Regions from separate parts of the Homo sapiens genome. Here region 1 is linked to region 2. Evidence: fine-mapped expression QTL. A gene starts in region 2. The other region holds a variant in brackets. All regions are shown on one strand. Distances are from middle to middle. Region 1 overlaps CECR7 (cat eye syndrome chromosome region, candidate 7). Region 2 holds the start of IL17RA (interleukin 17 receptor A).

Region 1 (4,387 bases), 36 kb before region 2:
CTAATATATGAATAATAAATTGTCAATAATTATCAAATACCCATTGGGTTACAGGCACAGGGTGGTATATATAATAATAGTAAAAATAATGATGAAAGTACTGATGACAGGGATAATAATGTAAACTACCTGGATGTTTTATATGTATTATCTCATGGAAGCTTTAAAGAAACCAAATGAGGAATGGAATCTTTATTATTCCCATTTCACAGAGAAGGAAACTGAGGTTAAGGAGAGGTCAAGTAACTTTTCAAGGCATGGAGTGGACATTGGAAGTACAGGCATTTGCACCTGGTCCTCTTATTTTCCAAAACTACTGTAGGGTCCAACGTCACCTTGTTTTTCCACTCATTCAATAAATACTGACTTTTTATGCTATGTAATAGGTTGACACTCATCATGAGCCTCTGCCCTCGTTCTGCAGGTGGTGAAGGCATTGATTGTCCTGACCCCACAGTTTCTGTCCCATGACAAGGACCAGCTGACTAAGGAGCTGCAGCAGCATGTAAAGTCAGTGACAGCCCCATGTAAGTACCCGAGGAAGCTAAGTGAGGGCAGATGGAAGGGGTCAGTTCCCAGTACTCCTGCCCCATGTCTCCTAGGGTGGCTGTGCAGGGGGAAGCTTGGAGACTCACAGTAGTGGCTTTTTTTTCTGCATAAGAAGCAATTTGGCTTAGGGATGGGGTGTTCTCTTAAAAATGTATTTAAACTGACAAATTAGAAAATGATCTATTAAAAGCAAGGAGACATAGATAAATCCTAATTCAGGTGATTACAACAAATATTTCTTAAGCACTTTCTATATGCTGGCAATTTATAAGAGTGTTTAAGATAAATCTAGTATAAATGCTGAACTCAGGAGAGTAAGAAAATGACAAATACTTATAGGACAGCCCATGCGATATTACAAGCACATGCAATGTTGTGAAATAACACAGAGGAGGGCATAATTAACTCTGCAAGAGTTAGGAGGAGGTTCAAAGAGGAGGGCCTAGTGAGTAGGCATTTTCAAGATGTAAAGGAATAGAGGGGATGATGTGGAAAGAGGAAGAACCTCTCAAAACAAGACAGGGCTGGGCTTGGTGCCTCACACCTGTAATCCCAGCACTTTGAGAGGCTGAGGCAGGATGATCAGTTGAGCCCAGGAATTTGAGACCAGCCTGAGCAACACAGCAAGAACCCTGTTTCTATTTAAATAAGTTTAATATATTAAAAAAAGACAACAGAGTAAACAAGAAGCACTGAGGCATGAGACAACATGACATGCAAAAGACAGTAAAGTTGAACTAGTAACATAATTTCTAATGTCTCCAAATGACGAAAGTAGCATACAGCTCTTAAAACTGACATGAGAAAGTGCATTTAGTGACTTCAGTCTTTGGTGGAAGTTCCTAGTGTATGAAATGGAACAGATGAGAAAAGGCCTTGGTTCCCATGCTGTGGGAATAGGGAACTGGTGAAGGGCTAAGTATCAGAGGACGTGTAATTCAGATAAATCACTCCGTTGGTTACCTGGAGGGTGAATTTGAGGAGAATGAGACTGGAGGCAGGAGCAAGGCAGTACCAGTGCAGGTGAAGAAAGAACATAGGTAGAACTTGGCCACCAATTAGAAAAGGTGAGAGGAGGAGCCAAGGAGAGGGAAACATGTGGGATCACGGCCAGGTTTCAGGCTGGAACAGGACAAATGGCAGAAGCATCCAATATTGAAAATAGAGTCAGAGGAGCCTTCTTGAGTGGAGAGGGATAACAGGGCATTCTAGGACAGGATGGGTTTGAGATTTCTTGACATATCTGAGTGGAAAAGTCTTGGAAGCATGAGGCCACACCAGAGCTCAGTGAGGGCAAGAAGATAGGGAGTGTGGAGTCATCAGCTTGCAGGTGACAGCTGAAGCCATTCTCCCACTTCAGGAGAGAAGCACATGAGCAAAGAGCTGAGATTCCTGGAGAACACCAACATTCCCAAGTGAGCTGAAAGAGAGAATTCGGAGGAGGGCCAGAGGGAAAATTAAATGGAAGAGTGTGC[T/C]GTAGAGATAGCACTGTGATCCAGGGCTTGATCTTTGAAGGCAGACTGCCTGAATGACAGTTTCCTTTTCTGTAAATGAGAGTGAAATTATCTACCCATGCATGGAAAAAAACCCTCAACAAACTAGAAACAGGAGGGAACTTCATCAGCATGATGAAAAGCATCTGTGAAAACCTAACAGTTAACAGATTTAATGGTGCAAGACTGAATGCTTTCCCCTAAGATTGGGAACAAGACAAGGATGGCCATGTTCAGCAGGTCTATGCAGCCTTGGTTCTGACCAGGATGATTAGGCGATTGATATATAAAAGGATCCAGATTAGAAAGGAAAAAGTAAAACTGTCTTACTCCCAAATGTCATGATCTTGTATACAGAAAATCCTAAGGTATCCAGTTTAAAAAAAAAACAAAACTAGAACTAGTTCAGCAAGTTCACAAAATCAGCATACAAAAATCAATTGTATTTCTGTACACTAGCAATGAGAAATCCAAAAATGAAATTCAGAAAATTATTCCATTCACAATAGCATCCCAAAGAATAAAGTACTCACTGTGGAAAGAAACTAAAAAAGAACTAAATAAATGAAAGATATTCCATGTTCATGGATCAGAAGACTAAATATTATTGTCAGTACTCATCAAATTAGTCTACAGGATCAACCTGATTCCTATCAAAATCCCAGCTACCTTTTCTGCAGAAATTGACAAGGTGATCCTAAAATTCATATGGATATGCAAAGGACACAGAATAAGCAAAATAATCCTGAAAAAGAAGAACAAGATTGGAGGACTTATCTTCCTAATTTCAAAACTTGCTACAAAGTAATCAAGAGGGTATGGTACTGTCTTAAGGACAGATGTATAGGTCACTGGAATATAGTTGAAAGCTCAGGCTGGGCACTCATGCCTGTAATTGCAGCACTTTGGGAGGCTGAGGTTGGGGGATCCTTTGAGGTCAGGAATTCAAGACCAGCTTGGGCAACATAGACAGTGAGACCTGTCTAAAAAAATAAAAATTAAAGACAAATTTGATTAGCCAGGCATGGTGGTATAGGCCTGCTGTCCCATCTAGTCAGGAAGCTGAGGTGGGAGGATCTCTTGAGCCTAGGAATCTGAGAATGCAGTGAGCTATGATTGGCTACTACACTCCAACCTGGGGAAGAGAGAGAAAACGTATCTGTAAAAGAAAATAAAGCCAAGTGTGGTGTCTTATGCCTGTAATCCCAAAACTTTAAAGGGCCAAGGAGAGAGGATCCCTTGAAACCAGGAGTTTGACACCAGCCTGGGCAACATAACAAGACTCTGTAACTATGAAAATTAAATTAAATTAAATTTAAAACTATGGCTGGGTGTGGTGTAATCCCAGTACTTTGGGAGGCTGAAGTGGGTGGATCACCTGAGGTCAGGAGTTCGAGACCAGCCTGGCCAACATGGCAAAACCCTGTCTCTACTAAAAATACAAAATTAGCCAGGCGTGGTGGTGTGTGCCTGTAACACCAGCTACTCCAGAGGCTGAGGCAGGAGAATCACTTAGAACCTGGGAGGCAGAGGTTGCAGTGAGCTGAGATCACACCACTGCACTCCAGCCTGGGTGATGGAGGGAGACTCTGTCTCAAAAAGAAAAAAAAAAAATTAGCCAGGTATGGTGGCACACACTTGTCGTCCCAGCTACTTAAGAGACTGAGGCAGGAGGATGAATTGAGCTCAGGAGTTTGAGGCTGCAGTGAGCTATGATCACACCACTGCACTCCAGACTGGGCAACACAATAAGACCCTGTCTCGAAAAAAAATGAATTGATTAACTGAAAAATAATTGAAATCCCGGAAAGAAACCATTACATTTAAAGTCAATTGATTTGACAAAGGGGTCAAGAAACTTCATTTGGAAAGGAATAGTCTTTTCTTTTTTTGTTGTTTTTCATTTTGTAGAGACACATGTCTCACCATGTTGCCCAAGCTTATCTTAAACTCCTGGAGTCAAGCAATACTCCTGCCTTGGTCTCCCAAAGTGCTGGGATTACAGGTATGATCCACTATGTCCAACCATGAATAGTCTTTTCAACAAATGGTGGTGGGGCAATTGGATATTCATGTGCAAATAAATTAATTTGGGTCTCTGCCTAACACCATACACAAAAATTAACTGAAAATGGATCACAGACCTAAATGTAAAAACTAAAACTATAAAACTCTTAGAAAAAAACACAGGAGTAAATCCTTGTGATCTTGTGTAAGGCACTGATGTCTTAGATGCAATGTCAAAAGCACAGTTCAAGACCAGCTGGGGCTAAATAATGAGACCTGGAAAAGGAGGAAAGGGAAAAAGTGAGAAAATGAAAAATGGCAAATTGAACATCAGCCAA
Region 2 (4,339 bases):
CAGGAGATCAAGACCATCCTGGCTAACACGGTGAAACCCCGTCTCTACTAAAAATACAAAAAATTAGCCGGGCGTGGTGGCAGGTGCCTGTAGTCCCAGCTACTCGGGAGGCTGAGGCAGGAGAATGGACTGAACCCGGGAGGCGGAGCTTGCAGTGAGCCGAGATCACGCCACTGCACTCCGGCCTGGATGACAGAGCAAGACTCCATCTCAAAAAGAAAAAAAAAAAAAGAAGAAAAATAAAATATTTCTTAAATGCTGAATGTTGCTTTGTTCTATGAATAAGCAATATTTGTTCACAGATACATCAACTAATTAGGAATAAAATGAATTTCAAGTAATTCATGTTTAATTACTTATTAACATGTATTATATTTACATTATTTTTTATCAATTATGTACTAATAATGGCAATGATGAAATGAAGATCTCAGTGTCTTGCACTGGGCAGAGGCCTTTCTCATTCTCTGCCACTTGGGCCCCAGCATGGCTTCCCTAAGAGCTAGGAGCTCAGAGGGAGGGGCTGGGCAAGACAGAAGTCAGGATCTTTTTGTAACTTAATCTTGTAAGTGACATCCCATCATTTTTGTCTTCTTCTATTCATATTCTATTGTTAGAACCAAGCCTCTGGGTCCATCCCACACTCCGCGAGGAGGATTCAGAAGGTCGTGACTCCCAGGGGGTGGGATCCTAGAACACATCTTAGAAGCTGCCTACGACAACCGCTGATTTTTAAGTAACAGTTACATCCTCTACATCTATTTAGACTTAGGATGGAGAATTTTAGATGTCATCTTTAAAATGCATGAGAGGATGCAGTTTTCCAAAATTCTTTTAGAAACAGACAATTTGAAGGCCACTGAGCTTCAGGCTTCATTCAGCTGGGTCGTGTCTGCGGGCGGGGCTCATAGAGATGTCGCTGGGGGTCAGCGGGTGCTTCGGGCAGCGAAAAAACCCACCTCTCGAGGGCAGTGGAAAATACAGGGAAAAGCCACTTGAGTGTAGACTCCGTGCGTGTCAAGGCCAGGCAGAGGCGCACTTGATAGGCAAGGAAAAGCGGACGGTGGTGGTCTTGGGAGGAAGAGAGGAGAGGCGAATGGGCAGGAGCGTGTGGATGCACTAGGGCAGGACGGGCTCGAAGCAGGAACCTAGGATAGAGGCAGCGCGGGCCGGCTTGGGAGGGTCCTCCAGGGTCCGGAGAGGAGAGGACGCAGGCTGCACGCGTGCTAAGAAGGAGACTCATGAAATGTGTAATTCGCTGGCGACAGCTTCCGCGGCCGTGGAGTGAGCCTCTGGGAAGTAACGACTCTCTTAGGTGCGGCTGGGACACAGTCTCACAGACCAGGTAAGTTGCCTGCCCTCCAGGAACTCAAGTGTCCCCGAGTCCGAGCCAGGAGGCTGGAAGTGACTGCTGTCCCATCCTCCCTGGAGCCCGGAGCTGTCCTTGTCTTGAGAAAGAGAAAGCAAAGCCAAGGAAAGCAGAGCGAGCAGAACCAGGCAAAGGGGTGGGGACAATAAAATGGGATATGGCCCGCGCTTCCATCTACTCAGGAGGCAGAGGCAGGAGGATCGCTTGAGCCCGGGAGGCCGAAGCTGCAGTGAGCTGCGGTTGCACCACTGCACTCCAGCCTGGGAGACAGAGGGAGACCCTGTCTAAAAATAAAGTAAAATAAAAAACAAAAATAAAAGGGACAGAGACTAAGAAAACGGACTTCCTGAAATCCCAAGTTGGGATTTCACGTCCAGTGACCCACAAGAGAAGCAAGAAGTCTGAACAGGGCCAAGAATCAAGTGAGTGGGGGCGGAGGATTAAAATCGACAGTTGCTGCGGCACGGCCAGGGTGGAGGGTGCATGTGGGGCAGGCGAGGCTCCAGCTGGAGTTGACGCTAGCCCGACGCGGGTGCAACTGGAGGCGCGACGGGCCAGGCCCAGGAGCAGCGGGAGGAGCGCACCTGGGGCGCGCGGGCGGAGGAGGGCCGGGGAGGGACGCCGGAAGGACTGGGTAGGGACGCCCGGAGGACTGAGCGTAGGGCCGAGAGGAGGGGCGCAAGGAGGAACGGGGGGAGGGCCCTGTCTCACCCTAAACCCCTCCCCGTCCCAGACTAAACTCCTCCCCTCGGCCCGGCCCGCCCCTGGGCCCGGGCTGGAAGCCGGAAGCGAGCAAAGTGGAGCCGACTCGAACTCCACCGCGGAAAAGAAAGCCTCAGAACGTTCGTTCGCTGCGTCCCCAGCCGGGGCCGAGCCCTCCGCGACGCCAGCCGGGCCATGGGGGCCGCACGCAGCCCGCCGTCCGCTGTCCCGGGGCCCCTGCTGGGGCTGCTCCTGCTGCTCCTGGGCGTGCTGGCCCCGGGTGGCGCCTCCCTGCGACTCCTGGACCACCGGGCGCTGGTCTGCTCCCAGCCGGTGAGACTCGACGTGGGGAGCGGTAGCCGCCAGGATGCTGCGGACGCGGGGCAAGGTCGCGGAGGGCCGGACGGTCGGGACTACGCGCCCGGGCTGGGGAGGCAGGAAGTCCGCGCCGCGGGCTTAGAGGGGCTCAGAGCCTTGGGCACAGATATCGCGGCGCCTGGGGAGGACCCTCGGAGCGGTGGGAGTTGCGGTGTGGAATACGGGGGGGGTGGGTGGCACATCGCGCGGCGCGTGTTGCACAACCTGGCCCGCCGTCGTGACTGGAGGCGGGAGTGACACCTCCGCCCGGGCCGCGGAGTTCGGGGAAGGAGGGCGCGGCGCTGGGCCAGGCCGGAGGGGCGGCCAGGGCTGATAGAAAGGGGCTGTGGAGAAGGGGCCCGGGGAGGAGCCAGGACGGGTCTGGACCCAGCTCCACGCCTTGCGCCCCTCACGTACCCCGGCGGGGCACGGTCGGCCCTCGGGAGGCCCATCGCGCCCTCGGGAGCTTCCCTCAAGCCGTGCCCTTCATGCCGCCGACGGAGCCGGGCGAGCCCACGTCGTCCGTGCGGAAGGTGGAGTCCCTCACCCGCGGCCCCCAGAGGGACCCCGCTGTCGTAGAGCCACGCGGGGGCCGGAGCGCTGAGACGCGGCACCATGTTTCGGGGAGAGCTCTGCCGAGGGCGGCTGAGGGCCACCTCCCCAGAGGCGCGAAGCCCTGAGGATGGGCAGATGGTTCTTAAGACGGCGCCCTTCCCGCCACTCCCACCCCCGACTACCACCACCTGGGTCTGGGAACCCGGTGAGAGCGCAGTCGGAGGGTCGAACGTTTGTAGCTGTCAAGTCGTAGCCCCGCTGCGCCCACAGGAAGTGACCCACCCGCCTGCCGGGTAGTGGCCTTTCTGTGAGCCAGGACCATCTTAAGGAAAAAAACAAAAAAAGAGCAAAACGCCGTGCCCCTCCACAATATACTCTCCTCTTCCCCGCATCCCCGAGGGGATCTTTCCTCCCCTCCACCTCCACCTCCACCTCCACCGCTGACCCCAAGGAATAATGCTCAGTATCTGAGTCAGAGGATGTAAAACAAAGGGATATTTCTCCTTATGTAGTTTTATGGAGGATTTACCGAAAGAAGGTGGAGGGTGAGTGACTATGTCGCAGAAAAAAAAAAAAAGATGTTTTTATCGTGAATGATGTTGAGAAATGTCCTGTGACTTCCACTATTGGGCAAAGCAGGTCCCTCTGCCCTGCTAGTCCCTCCTGCAGGCTGTGTATGAAGCGTTCTGATATGGAGGGTTGGTGCGCCTGGGTTGACAGCCATTGGTCAGGTGCCTGCAGAGTACAGGGCGCCATACTGGGAACTGGAACTATAAATAAATACTCTGGGGACCCTAATATCCAGAGACCTAACCCATCTACGGGAGGAACAAGGCTTGAAGTTAGGGAACTGTCTAGCAAAGCTGCTTGCACAACTGCTAAGTGTACGGAATTCCAGGAAAAAGAAAAATTGCTTCCAGTTGGGGTGTCCTTCATGGAAAAGGCATTTGGGCAGCCCTGTGGGGGTAGCAGGAGCATTCCAGGTGGTGGAAAGGGCCTGAGCCAAGGTCCTTAAGTGGGACAGGGTACGGTGTGTGGCCGGAATGGAGGGTCTGTGTAATAGGACAGTGAGAAAAGATGCCAGAAGCGGGGATGGGACTCTGCTGTGCGTGGCGTGGGAGCCAAGCTCTGACTTTCACTGCACAGTGAAGCAACTGTAAGTCAGGAGCAGAAGCACGGCCTGGCTCCAGGGAGGGCTGAAGAGAGACACTTGCTGTTCATATTTGTCTGCAGTCTCTCGTTCTCTTCCTTCCTCTCTCTCTCTTCTGTATACACCTGCCTCACAGACAGCTCTTCTCCAGAGATAGACAGCTCTGGGCTCCATTGACTAGTTCTTTTAAAAAGAAAGAAAACACA

What was found. PIP is the estimated chance that this variant, and not a neighbour inherited with it, causes the effect. A credible set is the group of variants that fine-mapping cannot tell apart.
Region 1: its variant is the best candidate, but not a certain one, in a credible set for the expression of IL17RA in whole blood (INTERVAL, PIP 0.64).

The regions. Positions count from the first base shown.
Region 1 is chr22:17,046,900-17,051,286 of GRCh38, forward strand. It overlaps CECR7 (cat eye syndrome chromosome region, candidate 7), which reads left to right. Exons shown (of 4, transcript NR_152826.1): 3 at 425-527. Among named protein-coding and RNA genes, the nearest start is that of CECR7, 13 kb to the left of the region's middle. The variant T/C (reference allele first, on the strand shown) is at 2,025.
Region 2 is chr22:17,082,826-17,087,164 of GRCh38, forward strand. IL17RA (interleukin 17 receptor A) reads left to right here and starts at 2,175. Exons shown (of 13, transcript NM_014339.7): 1 at 2,175-2,404. The coding sequence starts at 2,267. RefSeq lists an enhancer at 1,235-1,404 and silencers at 1,958-2,177, 2,198-2,317, 2,568-2,667, 2,708-2,957.